2 linked regions of the Homo sapiens genome follow. The protein of the gene in region 1 purifies or fractionates together with the protein of each later gene. This does not show direct contact. Each region holds a gene or a part of one and is shown on either strand. Other genes may lie near its edges. The genes, in order: LYRM7 and MCEE.

Region 1 (4,308 bases):
CGCACTCTATTCTTATATAGCATATGCTAATTTATTTATTTATTTTTTGAGATTGAGTTCTGCTGTGTCACCCAGGTTGGAGTGCAGTGGCATGGTCATGGTCCACTAAAGCCTTGACCCCTGGGGCTCAGCAGTTATGCCAACTAAGCCTCCCAAATAGCTGAGACTAGAGGTATGCGCCACCACACCTAGCTATTTTTTTTATTTTTAGTAAGGACAAGGTCTCATTATGTTGGCCAGGCTGGTCTCAAATTCCTGAGCTCAGTTGATCCTCCCACCTCAGCCTCCCAAAGTGCTGGGATTACAGGTGTAAGCCACTGCACCCTGCCTATTCTTATAATCATATATTTATATTTCAAATGGATTTTAACTGGTTATTTAATAGTTTAATTAGATAAAGTAATTCATGGCTGGGTGTGGTGGCTCACGCCTGTAATCCCAGCACTTTGGCAGGCTGAGGCAGGTGGATTACCTGAGGTCGGAAGTTCGAGACCAGCCCAACCAACGTGGAGAAACCCCATCTCTATTAAAAATGCAAAATTAGCAGGACATGGTGATACACACCTGTAATCCCAGCTAGTCAGGAGGCTGAGGCAGGAGAATTACTTGAGCCAGGGAAGCAGAGGTTGTGGTGAGCTAAGATTGTGCCACTGCACTCCAGCCTGAGAGAACAAGACTCCGTCTCAAAAAAAGAAAAAAAGAAAACTTTTTTACACATGGGTATCTCACCATGTTGCCCAGGCTGGAGTGCAGTAGCTATTCATAGGCACAGTCATAGCACACTGCAGCCTAGAATTTCTGACCTCAAGCAATCATCCTGCCTCAGCCTCCTAAGTAGCTAGGACTACAGGTGCATACCACCATAACCAGCTTTAATTAAATGTTTTTTATTTGGTTATTTTTTTTAAGTTTTCTGTATTCACACAAGGGGTTGCCCAAATATAATTTTGCTTTGACTATTGAGATCTAGTGAAAGTGGGGTATATGAATTCTAATTGCAAATATCCAGGCTCAGAGGCCCAGCAGGACTTTCTAACACAATCTTTTAGCGGAAGTTAGAAATGGTATATAGCAGGAGAGTCAGATTTGAGAAGCATATGTAGATTCGAAGCTGGGGGAATATGGCAGGTAGTTTGTACAACATCTAATTCAGAACATTAAAATTAAGATTTTAGTCAAACTGTGTTTAAGTTAGTTCTTATTTTCCTGTAGATGCATCTCACAGCATCAGTACAATACCAAAAAAGCACACAAGAATAAGAATATGTGGAATTTCTATACCTATTGACAAAGCACATAATTTAACCATAAACACAAAGCCATAGGTCAACAAAGAAATGAAGATTCCAGTTCTGAAGGTGAGTTTTCTGAAGCCAAAGTGGATACATGCAAAATTAATATAGTTTTACTGTATATCAGTTGTCACCAATCAGAAATGGAAAACAGATCCTATTTATAATTGCAAACAAAACTGTAAAATAGACTTTTTAAAGTCTGGGAATAGACTTCTAAAATAAGCTATAACACTTAAAAAGGAGAGATATACTATGTTCCTAGATAGGACAATTGAAAATTCTGGAGATGACAGTTTTTCAAAAATCTATTGAGGCCAGGTGCAGTGGCCCATGCCTGTAGTTCCAGTACTTTGGGAGGCCTAGGTGGGTGGATCACCTGAGGTTGGGAGTTTGAGACCAGCCTGACCAACATGGAGAAACCCCGTCTCTACTAAAAATACAAAATTAGCCAGGCGTGGTGGTGCATGCCTGTAATCCCAGCTACTCGGGAGGCTGAGGCGTGAGAATCGCTTGAACCCGGTAGGCAGATGTTGCAGTGAGCCGAGATCGCACCATTGCACTCCAGCCTAGGCAACAAGAGCGAAACTCCATCTCAAAAATAGAAAAAACATTTATCGAAATCCCAACAAGTTGACAAATATATCCACATAAAAATATAAAACTTCTGTATTCTGTGAAAGCTACTATAAATAAAGTTTAGAGAAAGTTATTTGCCACCTATGTCATGATTGAAATAGTTAATTGATCCTGTGAATCAGTTAGCAAAACATAACTCAATGGAAAGATAGGCAAATGATACAAATAAGAAATTCACAAAAGAAGAAATACTAAGTCTCTAGTGATGAGAGAAATGTAAATTAAAATGAAACATGTTTGTTCATCAAGTTGTCACAAGTTAGACAATCATATCCAATATTTTTAAAGGTTGTAAGACTATAAGGAAATAGCCACTGTCATATCATTTTTAAAGGAATATAAATTATAGGGCCTTTTGTTTCTTTGGGTTTTTTTTTTTTAGAGACAAGATCTCTCCGTGTTGTCTAGGCTGGACTCAAACTTCTGGACTCAAGCAATCCTCGCAACATCATTAATAGCTGAGAGTAGAGACTTGAGCCACCACACCTGACTATAGGGCCTTTTTGAAAGGAAAATTGACATCATCAAAATTTTAAATATATTCAGTCTATTTCTCAAAAACTCAAAGAATACTAATAAATGTGTACTCAGGTATATGTACAGAAATTGCTGTAACATTATAATTTTAAACAATTTAAAACAGACTGAGTTTCCAAAGTTAGGGTACAATGAAAGAAAAGGTGGCTTATTTATACTCTGGAATATTTTCCAAGAGTTGAAAAGGATGAGGATACACACACACACACACACACACACACACACACACACACACACACACAGTTTGGGTATCCCTAATCCAGAAATTCAAATGCTCCAAAGTCCAAAACTTTCTGACCCACCAACATGACTGATGCTCAAAGGAAATGGCCACTGGAAGATTTCAGATTTTCAGATTTGGAGTGCTCAACCAGTAAGTATATAATGCAAATAATCCAAAATACAAAAAAAAAAAAAAAGAAATCTGAAACACTTCTGATCCCAAGCATTTCAGAAAACGGATGTTCATTTGTGTGTGTGTGTGTGTGTAAGCAGGTGTTGCTAGAAATTCACTTATATACAAGAAAACTTTTTGTGTACATATTTGCATATATATGTACAAATGGGTAGAAACGATACATGATTAATCTTAATCGGGAAGGAAAAGAGATTTAGGGAAGGAAGCAGTAAGTGAGAACTTTTATTCTATTTACTCCTGCACGTTTAAATATTGTTTACAGTGAGTATATCAACATGTAAGTGTTAAAAGACAATAAGCTACTAGTGATTTTTAATATAAAATTAACTATAAAATATTTTAAATATTAGCAAATAATATAGCACACTCATGAACCTAATTCCCACATTTGATAGTTGTTACATTTTGCCATGTTTGTTTAAAGGTCTAAGTCATAAAATCTTATAAAGCTAAACCCCACCCTTCTCTTTCTCCTCTCTCTCCAGGATAATTACTGTTTTATAGTTTGTGGATATCATTCCCTTACTTGTGTTTATACTTTTACCAAGTGTGTATGTATTCAAAAAACAGTTGTTTTGTGATTTTAAAATGTAAATGAATGGCGTTATGCTCCATGTATTCTGCAACTTTTCATCATACATTAGGTTTTGGCGATTTAGCCATAATTTGGCATGAATTCAGGTCTTTTAAGTTTTATTCCATTGTAAGAATAAACAAGTTTGTTCATTCATGTCTCCATTGATGAGTGATAGTATTGTCTCCAGTTTTTTTATGTTGCAAACCAATTTGCAAAAAACTCTGGCACATAGATTTTTACACCCAAGAAAAAGTTTACCTGGACATACACCAAGGAGCAGAACTGTTGAGTCCTAGCGTATGTGCATATTCAGCTTTTCCAGAAATTTCTAAATTGCTCTTTAAAATAGTTGTACCAGTTTACATTCCAATCGACAGTGTGTGAAAGGTCCCATTTCCCCACATCCTCACTGTTATGTATGATTTTTCTCATTGTCAAACTAATGGATATAAAATGGTATATTGTTTTAATTTGCATTTCTTAATTACTGGGGAGGCAGATCATCTTGTCATATGTTTATTGGCCATTATGGTTTCCCATTATGAATGTGTGTCTCTATCTTTTGTCCTCTTTTCTCTGTTGGGTTGTCTGGCTTTTTCTAACCAATCCTTTATATATTCTGGATACTAGTCCTTTGTTAATTATCTTTTTCCAATATGTGGCTTGTCTTTTAGTTTATGATAAACTTGACTGGGCTAAGGGATGCCCATATAGCTGGTAAATATTATTTCTGTGGTGTCTGTGAGGGTGTTTCTAGAAGAGATTAGCATTTCACTTGGTAGTCTCAGTAAAGAATGTCACTCTCACCAATGTGGGTGGGCATCATCCAAGTTTTTGAAGTCCAG
Region 2 (3,823 bases), on another chromosome or scaffold:
TTTTCAATTACTGTAATTTTTAAGATCTTCTGAATTGCACCTGCCAACAATTTTTAAAGGAATGTGAAGAAATGTTAGACAAGAAAAGTCCATTAGAGAACATTTCTATAGATGTTCATGTTCAGATAACTGCCTTTTAGAATATCAGCAATGACAATTATGCATCGATTTAATTTGCTAGGACAATTCTTTTTATAGAAAGAATGACATAATTGTTAAGCCAAATTTCTTTTTCTTTTCTTTTTTTTTTTTTTTTTGAGACGGAGTCTTACTCTGTCGCCCAGGCTGAAGTGCAGTGTGGCGTGATCTCGGCTCACTGCAACCTCTGCCTCCTGGGTTCAAGTGATTCTCCTGCCTCAGCCTACCAGGTAGCTGGGATTACAGGCATGCGCCACCATGCCCGGCTAATTGTGTATTTTTAGTAGAGATGAGGTTTCACCATGTTGGTCAGGCTGGTCTCAAACTCCTGACCTCAGGTGATTCACCTACGTCAGCCTCTCAAAGTGCTGGGATTATAGGCGTGAGCCACCTTGCCTGGCCTGTTAGGCCAAATTTCTAATACAGAGGAGAGGTCATTTGATTCTAGAGTGAATTCAAGGATGTATTCAGTTCATTATTGCAAACATGTATGAGACCCTATAATGTGTATTCTGCCAAGTACTTGGGATTTAGCAGTGAATAAGACATGAGTCATGTCCATAGTGAGGAGGGTCAGAAATTTAAACACCCAAGTGCAATATACTATGATAAGTAGAATTGATATATGTGACTTTGCAGTAGCACAGATGAAGGAGATTGATTGCTCCTGGCAGATTGAGTTGCTGGGAAGGCCTCACAGAGCATAAGTTACAATGAATGTGAAGGAATTCCCTAGGTGAACAAAAGGAGAAAGTTATTTCAGGCAGAGGGAATTGCATGTGGAAAGGCATAGAGTTATCATAACAGCTAACACTTAGTGGCTGGGTGTGGTGGCTTATGCCTCGACATGGCTTGGCTGTGTCCCCACCCAAATCTCATCTTGAATTCCCACATGTTGTGGGAGGGACCAGTGGGAGGTAATTGAATCATGGGGGCAGGTCTTTCCGTGCTGTTCTTGTGATAGTGAATAAGTTTCACAAGATCTGACAGTTTTATAAGGGGGATTTTCCCTGCCCAATCTGTCTCTCTTTGCCTGCTGCCATCCATGTAAGATGTGACTTGCTCCTCCTTGCCTTCTGCCATGAGTGTGAGGCCTCCCCAGCCACGTGGAACTGTAAATCATTAAACCTGTTTCTTTTGTAAATTGCCCAGTCTCGGGTATGTCTTTATCAATAGCGTGAAAATGGACTAATACACACCTGTAATCTTAGCACTTTGGGAGGCCAAGGTGGGCAGATTGCTCGAGCCCAGGAGTTTGAGACCAGCCTGGGCCAAATGGCAAAACCGTGTCTCTACTAAAAATACAAAAAGCTAGTCAGGTGTGGTGGTATGCACCTGTAGTCCCAGCTACTTGGGAGGCTGATGTGGGAGCATCACTTGAGCCCAGGAAGTGCTGAGGTGGAGGTTGTAGTGAGCCGTGATCACACCACTGCACTCTAGCCTGAATGAAAGAGCGAGACCCTGTCTCAAAAAAAAGAACTAACATTTAGTGAGTCCTCTAGTAGTATGTCTACAAAGTAACTCAACACATACTATTTTCTTGAATTTTCATAGCTACCCTGTGAGGGCCCTATTATCCCCATTTGACAGGAAAGGAAACTGAGACAGAGTAGTTAATTTGCCCATGGTCATATCAATAGCAGGTATGGGGCTGAATCCCAGATTGGTTCTGATTCCAGGGTCTGCACTCTTACCCATGATGCCAGTTGCCTTCATTATATTAACTGAGTTTTAAATTTGCGGTGGGGAAGCTATAAGACCTTAAGCAGGGAACTAAACAAGTCCTAATATTAGCCTTTATTTTATTTTTAGGGAGTTACTTTTGGCTGCAGGTCTTTGTCAGTGGACCTGAGTGTTTGTCTAAGCCCTACCCCACCCCCCAGGATGAGAAGCAGGACCTTTGAATCCACTCCCCCCTCTCCCACACTGCACTATCAGTATTCCATCAAGAGAGCCCATGCTTTCAAAGGAGTTCAGCTATGTGATTTAGTTCAGTTAAGTAAGGAATAGTGGAAGTTCAGTAATGGCAGATTCAAAAGCAGAGATTATAAGGGGGACATGCAAATGTATTGGATATAAAATGAAGGTAGGTAAGAGGAGAAGGTGTGAACAGTGGTTAGTTAGGTGCTATTTTAGTATAATACCCCCATCATCATTCTCTGCCCTCCACAAAAAAATTAAGTGGCTTAACAAGATTTTATTTTTCTGTTTTCAGTCTAATATTAGCTATCCCAGGCTGATGGGCAGCTCTGCTGTCCATGACACATGACTTACAAGGTTGCTCCAGGCATCACCATTTGCCAGCCAGAGGGAAGGGAAGGGAAGGTGGAGTGGGAATACCTGGCAAGTGGCTTTAAGGAGATGCTCTAGGATCACTTCTGTCCTTATCCCATTGGCCCAAGCTTAGTTACATGACACACTTCTCTGCAAGGGAGGCTGGGGAATGTAGTCTCTAGCTAGGCAGTTATGTGCCCTGCTGAAGCTTGGGGGTTGCTGTAATTAAAAGGAGGAAAAGGAGAAAGGTACTGGAGGCCATCAATGGATGCCACGCTTGGTGATTTTTAAAAAGTGGTGTGTCACCTGGGCATGGTGGCTCATGCTTATTACAGCACTTTGGGAGGCCGAGGTGGGCAGATTGCCTGAGCTCAGGAGTTTGAGACCAGCCTGGGCAACACGGTGAAACCCCATCTCTACTAAAATACAAAAATTAGCTGGACGTGGCGGCGCACACCTGTAATTCCAGCTACTTGGGAGGCTGAGGCAGGAGAATCGTTTGAACCTGGGAGGCAGAGGTTGCAGTGAGCCAAGATCATGCCACTTCACTCCAGCCTGGGCAACAGAGCAAGACTCCATCTCAGGAAAAAAAAAAAAAATGTTGAACCACTCATCAGAGAATTGGCTTTCCCCTCTGTAATCACAGGGCTACTTTCTGTCCTTTTTCACCAGGATCTTATAAAACCTCTGACTTAGCATATATCTGTTGGTGCATGCTCCATGGTTTTTGTTGACTCACTTGACGAAATGTTCCTTTCTCACATGTGGATTACGATCTCAATAGTTAATTAGCATTTTTCTGTCGAGGTTGAGTTGGTTTCTACTTTTTCTTGTGAGGTTTACTCATATTTCTTGTGTGTCTTTGCCTCTCACTAGAGGAATTTTAGAGGGCATCTTGTCCCATCTCTTCTCTTGCTCAAGTATGGACTGAATCACCCACTGTTTTCTGGCACAGCTTGTGTTTGTGCTCCTAACTGCTGCCTGCGATGGCAAGAGGGGGGTCACCTTCCCTGCCTTCTGCGTGCCTCTGCTTGAGGAGACAAAGCTGGCCGTGCTTTCTCTGGAGAACTTAGCCAGACAGCACAGTGTGTCACAGTGAAGACTTTAAGGGCCACCAGAAATACTTACTCAAATTTGTATTGAGTTTGTAAAAATATTTAAATGCTTCCGTGTTGGTTGGTAAACAGCTGCTGCTCTGTAACACCTGAGTAACATTCCTTTTCCAGAAGGACCCTTTTCTGGGACCCTTCAGACACCCTTCTCCCTCTACAATTTTTTTCCTTCAGAGAGAGGGTCTCACTGTGTCACCCATGCTGGAGTGCAGTGGCACAATCATTACGCACTGCAACCTGGAACTCCTGAGCTCAAGCGACCCTCCTACCTCAGCCTCCTGAGTAGCTACGGCTACAGG

What was found.
Region 2: the proteins of LYRM7 (region 1) and MCEE purify together in Homo sapiens (co-immunoprecipitation; one large-scale study listed by IntAct). This does not show direct contact.

What each region holds. Positions count from the first base shown.
Region 1 is NC_000005.10:131,201,805-131,206,112, forward strand, and holds the end of LYRM7 (complex III assembly factor LYRM7), read left to right. Parts: 3' UTR 1-3,624; downstream 3,625-4,308.
Region 2 is NC_000002.12:71,119,927-71,123,749, reverse strand, and holds part of MCEE (methylmalonyl-CoA epimerase, mitochondrial precursor), read left to right. Parts: intron 1-3,823. UniProt on the Homo sapiens protein: Methylmalonyl-CoA epimerase involved in propionyl-CoA metabolism.